4 separate regions of the Homo sapiens genome follow, and all the other regions are reported to be linked to region 4. Evidence: microRNA targets listed by miRTarBase, many of them from high-throughput screens and not tested one by one. Region 4 holds a microRNA gene; each other region holds the end of a gene's coding sequence.

Region 1 (3,132 bases), not on the chromosome of region 4:
AAAATCAGCCGGGTGTGGTGACACACGCCTGTGGTCGCAGCTACTACTCAGGAGACTGAGGCGAGGGGATTGCTGGAGTATGGGAGGTCAAGGGTGCAGTGAGCTGAGATCACGCTACTGCACTCCAGCCTGAGGGACAGAGCAAGACCTTGTCTAAAGTGTGGCAATGGCAAGAGCGTAAGGACAAACAGAAACAGACCCACACAGGTAGGTCAGTTGATTTCTGACAAAGGCGCCAAATTAGGAGAAAAAAGCCTATGCAGCAAATAATCTGAAAGTTAAGGGAGAAATGGATCCTGACTGCAACCCACACTGGAAACGTACACTCCTGAGTAGGGACTGGATACACACGCGGCACACACCCACACAACAGGCCGCCACGCGGCAATCAGGAGTCTGCCGCTGATCCACGCAAAAGCCTGGGTGAATCTCAGATGCTGAGCGAATGTAAGCAGATACACGCAGACATACACAGACGCACGCAAAGACACAGACTGCCCAGAGCCATGCACGTGGAACCCATGGCAGGCGGGAGGTAGGGAGCTGCGGTGGTAGGAGTCAGAATGGGTACCCCTGTGGGACTGGCTCTGCGGAGTGGAGGGCATCACCTACATCCTTCGTGAGTGCGCACCATGACCAGCCACACCCATGGAACTAACACTCGGTATCTGGGTTTTTTGTGTAACTGCCTCCCCTCAACACCATGGTCTCCCACATACAAAAGAGGCCATTATACAGTAAGACACGCTACTCCGCAATTAGACACCACAAAACGCCAGCCAGGCTGTCCATAATTAAAAATACCGAGCACCAAGTCTCAGCAATCCACTAGTGTTCTCCTTCCACCCAGCTGGGAGAAAGAAACACAGTCCAACCACTTTGGAATCATCTCTATACTTGGACAACACGCTTCGTAAGATCCATTAGGTGCTCCTAGAGTTGGCCCCCACCCCCACCCCCACACGAGTGTTCACCACAGCTATTTCCAAGTGAGTGTTATTACCCCAGAAAGGAAGCAACTCAAATATCCACCCACAATAAAGTGCATTAAAATCAGAGCACAGGACAGTCATGCAATGGAATACTATACAGCAATGAAAAGGAACACACTTCTGCTAGATGACAGGGCTGAGTCTCACCAACACACTGAGTACCTTAAGGCTCTCAGGATAATGGGAAAAAAAAGAACCAGAATCCACCCCCCGCCCCACCAGCCACACACACACAAGTCCACAAAGGAACAGGCACCCACATGCTGTACCCTGGGGCCCTTCCAACCCTGATGCGCCAACTCCCGACATGCTGCCTCTAGCCTTGACCTTTCTCAGAAATGATAGCTTAGCGGATGTTTGGCAGATCTCAACAGTCAAGCCAAGATCCAGCTGCAGTCAAAACACAATACGCCTGGTGGAGCCTCTTCCAGGTTCAAACACGGGAACCACGCTCGGAGCTGGACCCGGACCCGAGCCTCTTCCAGGCTCAGACACGGGAACCACGCCCAGAGCCGGACCCGAGCCTCTTCCAGGCTCAGACACGGGAAGGGAACCACGCCCAGAGCCGGACCCGAGCCTCTTCCAGGCTCAGACACGGGAAGGGAACCACGCTCGGAGCCGGACCCGAGCCTCTTCCAGGCTCAGACACGGGAAGGGAACCACGCTCGGAGCCGGACCCGAGCCTCTTCCAGGCTCAGACACGGGAAGGGAACCACGCTCGGAGCCGGACCCGAGCCTCTTCCAGGCTCAGACACGGGAAGGGAACCACGCTCGGAGCCGGACCCGAGCCTCTTCCAGGCTCAGACACGGGAAGGGAACCACGCCTGGAGCCAGACCCGAGCCTCTTCCAGGCTCAGACACAGGAACATTCTCGGAGCCGGACCTGAGCAACCGCCAGTCCATCAGCTATGGTCAGAGGAAGGCCTCCGTGGCTGTCTCTCCCCCATGAGATGGGGCATTTACACAGCACACTTAGGGACACGGAGGCCCTGCAGGTTTGGTGAGGTCTCCCGAGGTCCCTGAGCTGCAGAGGTGAGAGTTGAAAGACGCTGCCCCCAGGCCACAGTCTCTGACTGTCCACAGAACCACACGCTCCACATCTTCCCCTCAAACTCAACTCAAGCGCTCTTGGCTTTAAATCAGGCCGGGCCGTCTCACGGGAAAAGGAGGTTGGCTGCAAAGACCCACAGGGCCCAGAGGGGAAGCTGGCTATGACGCGATCCCTTCAAGAGCACTGGCTCCGGCCCCAGCCACCAGGACACTTAGTGACCAGCCAACAAGCGGGTGGTTTAAATACTGCACTCTATTTTTTAAGGACTCTGTGCATGGTATTTCCGGTGGCAGATGTGTAAGATTTTTTATGTAAATCGTGTTGTTTTAGCAGAGGACTATCAGACCTGACAGCAGCTGGACATCGAGGTCCTCACTGGGGTGGTGACTGCCACGCTGATGCTGAGTGGAAGCCAAGCCCCTTCAGTCAGAGCTGGGCCGATCTCAGACCCAAATGCTACCACCACCAAGCCCTGTGTCGCGACGGCAGCGGCTGCAGTCACCAGAAACAATCCTTCCTGCCTCGACACCCGTGCCAGCCCCAGCCACCCTGACGGCGGGCTGTCCACGGAAATGCCACGGCCAAGAGCCCAGGTCCTTCACGCTGGCCTCTTCCCTGCCGGGCTGGGCTCCCCAATGCCTTCAGAGTTCGTTGTGCCGAGCTCTGGAGATCCTGCCGGACAGGTCCTGCAGATGCTTCTTCACCTGTGGACAGAAACGTCTCATCAGCTGGGGACAGCGCGCCTCGAGGCCAGCTCTGTGAGCTCAGCCTCATGTCAGGAGACGCGCGATCCAAAAGGAAAAGGCGCAAGCCCTGCACATCTGACTTTCCAATTCCACACCCATCCAGAAATGCTCAAATCACAAAAGCAGCTCAGTACTAACTAGAAAATCCCACCAAAGAACGCTAAGAGCCACCAGCCAGGAGCAGTTCATGCTGAAGTGGAAAGCTCAGGGTCTCTGTGATAGGCCCATGGTGTTATTTATTTACTTACTGAAAGGGTCTCGCTCTGTCACCCAGGCTGGAGTGCAGTGGCATGATCTCAGCTCACTGCAACCTCTGCCTCCCAGGCTCAAGTGATCCTCCCAC
Region 2 (3,132 bases), not on the chromosome of region 4:
AAGAAGATAGTTCCCTGGAAAAGACAGTGTGATGGTGTGCCAAAAACACCTTTCCTGATCATACACATATAAGTAAACACCCATACCGAGTTCCCCCTGACTCTAGTTAGGAGCTGTCTTTAACCACATTAGTCCCTATTCGGGATCATCAAATTTGGGAAATACCTGTTCCTAGCTTGTTATGAACATTTAAAAATCTTATTTTTTTCCCCTTCAAACTGTGCTTATAATAGATAGCAAAGTGGGGAATAAAAGTCTAACTACAAGCTTATTAATTTGAAGTAATAGGACTTACTGCTTTCAGTAATGTCACTGTCATCCATCAGACTATTTCACCTCAATTTCATTTTCTCCCTCAGGTGTTTCAAGAATAAGGGGTTGGTTCCCTAGAAAATGTGTGGAAAAGTGTCCCTGTGATGCTGAAACAGATCAAGCCCCAGAGGGGGAGAAGAAAAATAGATAGCTGCTGTTAAAACAAAATTATCCTTTAAGTCTGCTTAATTACTTGAAAATTGTACATATTACTAAAGAATTATGCAATGAGCCTACTCTGGTTAAGATGTTCTTTTCCTCAAAGGTGCCCTAGTGCCATGATTTAAATATTTTTATTACCATTTTGAAATGGAGAAGCCATTCTGCATATGCCTTTGAATTCCTGCCCCTCTTTACCACCTCTTCCTCCCCCTCAAAGGAAAAACATTTCATCCAAGTAAGTTAACGGCATTTTCTGTAGGATTTTCTTATGCACTGCACACTCTGGACCTCACCTGCAGATACAGTTCCCCCCTTGCCAGGAGCATCTGCATGTGGTACTTCTCTTTTCCCTCAGTTGATATTTCTTATATGATATTCTAGATACTATAGAACTCAATTTGTCAGATTCAGTATAACCTCAGATTTTGTTACCTGTCTTTTAAAAATGCAGATTTTGTCAAATCAAATAAAGATCAATGGATGTTGGGTATAATCAGTTTTTACTTAAAGCATTTTTCTTTTTGCTGACTAAAAAGGTTCATCTTAGTTCCTTATGGAAAAACTGCTCTGCTGCCCTGTGGACAACTGGCATCTTAAAACGTGGCTTAAGACATGACACACTTGCTTCAAGATATTAACCCTATTAATGGGATATTGCGGTCATAGTGATGGCAGCGGATGGCAGTGGTGGCCTGAGGGGTGTTGAGGGGGAGCCGTGATAGGCAGGAGCCAAGCGTAGCTACAGCTGTCCAGCCGTGGCTGCGGACCCGGGCATCCTTGTGCTCTAGGGGGCCGAGGGGAAATACCCCCCCCACACCCCCCCCCCAACAACTGCTTGGCCTCTTCCTGCTCCTGGCACTCGCTCTGGAGCAAAGGTGAGGCCAAGCCCGGGTGCTGTGAGGACCTGGCCAGGTGTACGTGAGCTCTGAGTGGTGCTGACACCAGCGCCCTGCCGCCTAGGCCCCCTCTGGACTTTGGGCTGCCAGCCACAGAGGATTCCAGCTGGGGAAGCAACACCCCAAGGATCCCGTGGCAGTAGTGTTCTAGACTTTAAACATAGTGATATCAAACTACTCATGTACCCTTGAGTAAAAAGCTGAAGCTTGTGTGAGTGGTAGGATCCAAGCTGGTGGGCTTGGATGCTTAAATTGGGCTTGTCTAAACATAACAGTGGAATCACAGAAGGAAAGAGAAAGCCTATTTCTCTGGACTTCAGAAACCTTTCCAAGGCAGGGAATGTGAAGCTTTGGGGGCCAGGCCTGTAATAGTTGAGGATAAGGGAAGAGCACTTGGGAATTCAGCAGTGAACAGACAGGTAAAATATATGTAAGATGGAGTCATGTTATTGTGAAGCAAGAAGGTAGGACAGTCTTGAGTTGGCATTTGAAGCAGATGAGGGGACAAGTCATGTGCTTTGGGATATTTGCATTTTAGAGACAGCAGCAAGAACAAAAACAGGCTGGACCTGTGTCTGACACGTTTGAGAAACAGGAAGGTAACTAGTGAGGTTCAGCTGTAATGCGTGAGGGGAGAATAGGAAAGGAAGTGAAGGCGAGAAAGTTAAAGTGATAATGGGAGCTAGACTTTAAAAGTTAATTCCTGCCTACCCTTTTGTTTCAGATCCTTAAGAATAGATATTTCTTTGGCTTTTCTGGGCTCAAAATCTAGAAAGACCATCCAAGAACATTCTCTTTAACTCCAGTTGGAGGCCAGAAAAGAATACTATTAATATTCAAGATTATAATTAGAGTACAACAAAGATGGTAAAAGAATGGATATGACTTGTGCTCAGTTGGAGTTTTGGCTCAGCTGGTATTTGTTTTATTCTTTACAGCTATGGGATAAGAAGGTTTGGTCTTCAGAACTTACTTTTCTTCACTAACCTGTTCGCAGACTAGAATCATCTGTGGGTCTTCTTAACAATCTCAGTGCCCAGGCTGTATCCGGCCATTTAAGCCAGAATCCCTGGAGTGGCAACCAGGCATTAGTGGTTTTTTTGTTTTGTTTTTGTTTTTTTTTTTTGAGACAGAGTCTCACACTTTCACCCAGGCTGGAATGCAGTGGTGCGATCTCGGCTCGCTGCAAGCTCCGCCTCTCGGGTTCATGCCATTCTCCTGCCTCAATCTTCTGAGTAGCTGGGACTACAGGTGCCCGCCACCACGCCCAGCTAGTTTTTTGTATTTTTAGTAGAGATGGGGTTTCACCATAGTAGCCAGGATGTTCTCGGTCTCCTGACCTCATGATCCGTCCGCCTCGGCCTCCCAAAGTGCTGGGCATTAGTGTCTTTTTAAACTTCCTAGATAATTCTATTGTGTACCCAAGTTTAAGAACAGATACTGTACTTGATTTTTAAGGGGTCCTTGTTTAAGACTGATTTTCATCATGGTCCATGAGGAAAGAAACACCACAACGTAAGTATCTGTAATAGTTTATTTTAAAGACTTTACATTTACAAGTAGAAACAACATGTGTTATCTGTGGGTAAGGTAGAGCAGGAACTCTAATCCAAGGGTGGGGGAGATCAGTTGGTTCCTTCACAGAAAATAAGCCTGTTGTGTGGGCATCTTGCTTGCCTGTAGATCTTTGTTCCCAGTTCAGGAGGTTTTTATTCAGTGCTTGCTTCATTTACTGGAAAAGTTCACTGGGCCCACCTGTCAA
Region 3 (3,000 bases), not on the chromosome of region 4:
GTTCTGCAAGAGGCTATCTAAAGTTTCTTCAATTATACACCATTTCCTTTTCAAAAGATAGCCATATGTTTGAATGTAATTGGCATGATATATAAATTTTATTTGATCTATTAAACCACTAAAAACTTGGTACATCTTCCTAAAAGCTTTCATACATATAATAGCTTTTAACTGAGTTCATGGACAAGAATCATGTATGGGTTTGTGAGTAAATGCATTTACTGGGCACATAATGGATTCTTGTAAATGAGTGCTTCATTCTTCATCTCAATCTTTCTCTCCTTTTCTTTTTTTTTCTTTTCTAGGACAGAAGGGTATAGAAAAGTCCCCTACCATTATTATGAACAAGGAAGAGATGAGTGTGATGAATATTTTCTTCATGAACATGCCCCATATGGGGGTCATAGGTTTATCACTGAAAAGAAAGTGTTTGCTAAATGGGCCAAGAAGCACAGGATAATATTTACACATCCAAACTGGACATTGTCTTGATAATGGTTTTCCTGATCTTGCCGCATCACTTAATGTGATCCCCATACTGCAACTGTGATGCTGATGATGCTAATGGAGATGATGGTAATGATAAAGACAACAACAATGATTATCAAGTTCCTGTACACTCTCAGATGTGGATGGTGACTCTGCTAGTAATTTAAACTTGGCATTTCATGGAGGATGGTTGTGCTCATGATGTTCTTTCTGGAGGTTCAACACTACGTACCGCACTTTATAATTTAACTGGAATTGAGATGAAGGCCAGTGACATGACAACTGTGACCTAAGAAATGGGAAGATTATCTTTCAAGATAGCTGCCTAGAATTGTTCAACAGTGAGTAACTTCCAGAAGCCAAAAGAGTTTGGCTTCATGAGGCAAGGTGATTGACTCAATGGCTTGTTGAATCTCAGCAGTTCCGCCATCTTGAAGAATGATTGATTGTCAAACACTGACCCAAGAACTGCTATCAGGGTGCAAGTATCTTACTACTTAGCCTAAGGATGGGAAAATATCTCTTCCTAATATACCATCTTTCTACAGTATTTCCTACAGCTAAAGCCTCAGGCCATTGCCTAATTAACAATGAAGATTTCATGGACATCCTACACTTCAGGATTACTTGACTATCTCAAACACATAAATCAAAATGGGCCAAGTAGCAAATCTTGATGAATTTCCACTCTTACCATCCATTCTTACTACCAACAGTATAACTGAACATGTGATTAGAATGATCTATATTAATGTTTAGTTATTTTTGGTTGAGTGCTAAATATTTCAGAAGGCTACTTAACATGTAAGATACCAACTTCAACACTGTAATAACATATACTGTGAAAACATTCCTAAAAAGTAACCAAAGGGTTTGCTAACTCTGCTTCAACATCCAACAACACAAAACTATATGATTTTTAAAATCATGAAATAGAGACAGCAAAGCATATTTTTACATCAATTTGTATCCTATCATACTTCATAATATATATTTGTATATTCAAATTTCTATTTTATAGGCCCAAGGTGTGTTTCTCCAAACATTACATTCTCATTGCCAAGTGCCAGCTGTTACACATGGAGAGGAAATGATTCCTTATATTAAACCTGACCAGAGCTTTTTGCCTTCTAGGGATTTATTTTTCCCATAGTGTATCAGTTGTTATGCCACAATAACAACAATAATAATGTTCTTAATGTCCAAAGTGCTTTGTCATTTAGAGTCCTTTAACATCTGTTATACCATGTGATGCCCTTGAACACCCCATTGGGCTATTGTCTGTGTATTCTGCTCTCTTTAGCAGATGATCTGTAATTTGGTCATTGTTCTGTTATATTCCAGATTGCTCTACTTGCTAATATTTGTATAGAATAGAATTTATGTAAACTAGTAACCAGTTGATCTCTGTGCCAAATACATTATATCAGGATTACACAAAAAGTATCACAAAGGATGGTCTTGGCCATATGCTAGGGCCCCTGTGAAAATAAGTAGTTTTGAGAAGTTTTTCTATATACGTATATATACACGTGTGGTTCTATTTAGGTGGGGAAAAAATGAAAAAGCAGGGACAACAGGAGGAAATGAAGGCAGAGAAATATAGTTTCCTTTCCTAGGATTGAGACAATTCTATTTTTCATATACTCGTTGCTCATTAAATAGTAAAGGGTTGATTTGCTGCAAGAGTAGCTGAGAATTCAAAAACATCCTTGCAGAATGATTCAAAAGACAAAAGCCAGGCTCAACTTATAGAATGTTTTGGAAACTGGAAGTAATGATACATTTCACTTCAGAAGCACTTGTAGGTCTTTACTAGTGCTAAGTATTATGGTGAGCTATCATTAAAGTGTGCCATCTTGGATAAAGGCCTTTTGCCTACTCTCTTCTGCAATTTTGACACCTCAATATTCACACCCATAAACATTACTAAGCCCCAGTTCTATCGTTGGAAGGAGTTGTTATTCTTTTGTTGTTCCCTTATGCAATTTTTAATTCTATGAATGTTAAGTTTTTTTGAGCTAATGATAGATAGAAATGCCCACTCAAAGAAAAATAAACAGAGACAAATGTTAAAATTGCCATACAGACTGTTTTTCCCCCTGTTGTTTCACTTTAAAATAAAAAGAAATCCTTGATTAATCAGAATGGCTTGGGACATGAACTTAATTTATTTAGTTTTCTAATAAATGAAGGGCCAACTCTTATTTGTTCTAGCCCCTACTGATGAGAAACATTTGAAAACTTGCTTGCTCTCCTGCCTCGTTGTAGCTTTCTCTGATGAAGACTTCTGCAGTATATTGTATCCCTCACTCTATAGCAGAAGGTGTGTGTGGAATATGTAGACTCCAGTGTTTTCTTAGGAGGGGTGGGAAAGGGCTTTCTTTCCTCTCCTCTCCTCTCGTCTCCTCTTTCTTTCCTTTCTTTTTGCAACTAAACTGCTACTCTACACTTTTTATTGTTGTTTTCTTTGTCTTTTTCTTTCTACAAACAGGAAACAAAAAAAAAAAA
Region 4 (3,132 bases):
AAGACATACTGTGTAAGAAAATAGCTCATGTGTGAAATGTGTCTGAAATGCATTTTTTCCTTACAACTATCAAAACATCCACTCACACTAAAATGAAACCACTCCCAACCCCCCCTGAAAAAATGTTAAGGGAAGACGGGGTGGGCTGGGGGAGGAGCAAGGAAGGAAAAGATTTAGCTATACTAATTACAGCACAGTGATTAACAATGGTTCAAGACAGAACCAACAAGAGTTGGTCAAAAAGATGCCTTCAATACATGGCTACAATTAAAAACCAAACTCAGCCGCTTTTGGTTCATTGCAGTGAGACCAAAAAAATTATCTCTCACAGATTCATATAAATACTAGACTCCAGCTCTTATATCATTTTTTTTTAAGTTTTTCTGTTTGTTTCTGCAAGGCCTAGCTATCTTATTACAATTTATATTTGCTCTGCAACAACTACAAGAGGTAGGCATAAAGCATGAAAAAGTTTCTCAGTTAGTACCTCGCCATGTGTTGTTCACTGCACAAAACCATTCACTTTGGACATGAATAGTCATTCCTTCTATTATCTTCTAAACTCTAAAGCAAAGCTGCTGCCACCCGTAAATGTTCTAAAAGAGTGTACTCACAAGTAAGAAACTTTCTCTACTGAAGGATACTGTCACAGAGTTTGTTGCAGAGCATCTATATATATATTTATTTATTTATTTTAAAAAAATAAACAACAATGATGAACGAACCCAGGTTCCTAGAACCAATTCTCTTGATTCTCTACTTCCACAAAATAAAGTGTATCATTTGGCCAAGACTACAGATGTGTTTTTTTTTTTTTTCACAGATGCAAGTGCCATGCAAAAATAAATTAAAGAACAGATACCAAAACATACATGTGATAAAACTACAGAAGGTAGATTTTTAAAAGCATTTATATAAACATAATTTATAATACTTCTCTTTTTTCCTTTATATACAGTCACAAAGCTGTAGTTATACATCTAGGATTTCCTCTGCTGTACCCCCACAGCGTAATCTGTAGCGACCAGTTCTCCAGCTTATAGTTGGGTCCCATAATGCAGACAAAAAAATGTATATTGTCATGGATTCGCGGATGAACCAGGCGACTGCATAATCAAGTTTTGAAAAACACAGTGTGCCACCCTAGGAATGGAAAAAAAAATTTTTTAATTTCACTCACTGTCAAACTAAAGACAAGGTTAAAAAATTAAATTCTTGGATTTCACTTTTCTAAGTATACTATGTAAAATCAAGTCTGCTTCCTTATGTAATTTAACTGCCATGTTATACCGTTCAAGAAAATGCTAATTGTTAATGAAGCATTAAAATAACTGCTATCTTAATGTCTTATTAGTTTCAATACTCACTGATTTAATTAACTTCATGTTTTTGGAAACTTAATAAAAGCGATTATATAACCAATAGAAAGTTGCAAATCGACTTAAGTTTTGCATCAACATTCCACTAGAGAAAGTCATGTTCAAACCCGAGACTAACCTACAATGGGAAGCTGAAGAATGGCTCAGATACATTTCCTTCAACTTTTTCTAAATTGAAATAGTTCTAGTTCCACCAAGGGACTGCCAACCTTTTCATGCCTATCCACATACCTGGACACCCCTGAGTTGAATGTAGTCAAATATAAACCATGCCAGGCAATGACACATGAAAAATACCATAATATCCCATCTGAACACATGGTGGGCTGCCCATCCAATAATTAAACTGGCAACAAAGCATTCTGAAATTGGCTCACAAATTATTGTAGCAGGAAGCATGTTAATTCGTAGTTTGGTCCACCTGGAAAAACAAAAAGGATTTTCTTTAAAACAATATCCTGGCTACAAGACAAATCCTTTTTTTTTTCCCTCAAATAATCAATTTTTTTACCCTGTGATAGAAAGACCATTCTCTTTAAACTTTTTTTGTTTTGTTTTTTTTTTTTTACTTGAGACGGGGTTCTGCTCTGTCACCCAGGCTGGAGTGCAGTGGCACTCACTGTAGCTTCAATCTCCCAGGCTCAAGCGATCTTCCCACCTCATCCCACCAAGTAGCTGGGACCACAGGTGTACACGCCACCACACCTGGCTAATTTTTGCATTTTTTGTAGAGACAGGGTTTCACCATTTTGCCCAGGCTGGTCTCAAACTCCTGGGCTCAAGCAGTCCTCTCGCCTTGGCCTCCCAAAGCGCTGGGATTACAGGTGTGAGCCACCACACACAACCTAAAAATTTTTTTTAATGACTCTCTTTTCTATTTTTGTCTAGGATGTCAAAGAAAAATGTCTTTAAATTCATTTGTATGGCCTACGCTCTGATGAATACAGATAATAAAATTTAATCAGCACAGAAAGTTAGAAAATAAAGATCAGCATATTAAAAAATTCAGTCTCAACATTTCTCTAATGAGTGCTTTCAGTGTTATACAGCAAATAAAATACATTTAGACATTAAATTTATCTTAAACACAGACGTTAAACTCTATTTTCTGCAACTAAACAAAAATCTTCAACCTTTAGGTACATTCATTTAACTACATTAAACCTGTAAAAATTACCACCCCCCTCCCCACTTTCCTTTTAACGAAGTATAAAAAGAAAACAGTTGATTTACCTGATCATTCTGGATTGAAACTGAGAAATTGAATATGAGCCAGAGTTTTGCATTGCAACTTGAGTGGACATTGCAAACCTCCAACCTCTGAAAATTAAGATAATTAGAAAATAAGTTATGATGATGAACACATGCAAGCGTAACTGGTTATGCATTCAGTAATCATTATAAAGACCAGGCAACTGCCGGTATTCAGGGTGAGCCCAGCTTTCATGATTAGCACATGACTTAAGGTCTACCATACGTATGGATGTTTTAGCAATTATGCTGGCCCGTGACAGCACCATCTAAGAACTAGAAGAAACTGTACCCACCTTACTTTACAATTTAAGAAACTTAAAATGCAGTCATTTTGAAAAAAAATGGAGAGGGCTCCATATTTAATAGATTAGTCTCTGATGACTACTAACCAAACAACAAGACATGTAAACAGAAAGTGGCATTATGGATCTCATGGGAGACACTAGGAAACCATGAACCACATGAACACAATCATGACAGAATTTGTATTTAAAACACA

Evidence for each region. Region 4 holds the annotated microRNA hsa-miR-4668-3p (GAAAAUCCUUUUUGUUUUUCCAG, at 1,801-1,823, opposite strand). A microRNA usually pairs through its seed, bases 2 to 8, with sites in the 3' UTR of a target mRNA and lowers its output. Matches are read on the target gene's strand: a 7mer-m8 pairs with bases 2 to 8, a 7mer-A1 pairs with bases 2 to 7 and ends in A, and an 8mer does both.
Region 1: miRTarBase lists LRPAP1 as a target of hsa-miR-4668-3p. Seed matches in the 3' UTR shown: 7mer-A1 at 1,049-1,055.
Region 2: the mRNA of ZDHHC6 is a reported target of hsa-miR-4668-3p. Seed matches in the 3' UTR shown: 7mer-m8 at 733-739.
Region 3: the mRNA of ST6GALNAC3 is a reported target of hsa-miR-4668-3p. The part of its 3' UTR that is shown has no 7-base or 8-base seed match.

The regions. Positions count from the first base shown.
Region 1 is chr4:3,510,290-3,513,421 of GRCh38, forward strand. It overlaps LRPAP1 (LDL receptor related protein associated protein 1), which reads right to left. Exons shown (of 8, transcript NM_002337.4): 8 at 1-2,747. The coding sequence ends at 2,685. Among named protein-coding and RNA genes, the nearest start is that of LRPAP1, 21 kb to the right of the region's middle.
Region 2 is chr10:112,428,135-112,431,266 of GRCh38, reverse strand. It overlaps ZDHHC6 (zDHHC palmitoyltransferase 6), which reads left to right. Exons shown (of 11, transcript NM_022494.3): 11 at 360-967. The coding sequence ends at 463. It overlaps ACSL5 (acyl-CoA synthetase long chain family member 5), which reads right to left. Exons shown (of 21, transcript NM_203379.2): 21 at 2,891-3,132. Among named protein-coding and RNA genes, the nearest start is that of ZDHHC6, 17 kb to the left of the region's middle.
Region 3 is chr1:76,628,315-76,631,314 of GRCh38, forward strand. ST6GALNAC3 (ST6 N-acetylgalactosaminide alpha-2,6-sialyltransferase 3) reads left to right here. Exons shown (of 5, transcript NM_152996.4): 5 at 306-3,000. The coding sequence ends at 492. Among named protein-coding and RNA genes, the nearest start is that of LINC02567, 150 kb to the right of the region's middle.
Region 4 is chr9:111,930,838-111,933,969 of GRCh38, reverse strand. It overlaps MIR4668 (microRNA 4668), which reads right to left and starts at 1,870; the gene lies at 1,801-1,870. UGCG (UDP-glucose ceramide glucosyltransferase) reads right to left here. Exons shown (of 9, transcript NM_003358.3): 7 at 2,613-2,699; 8 at 1,611-1,800; 9 at 1-1,143. The coding sequence ends at 973.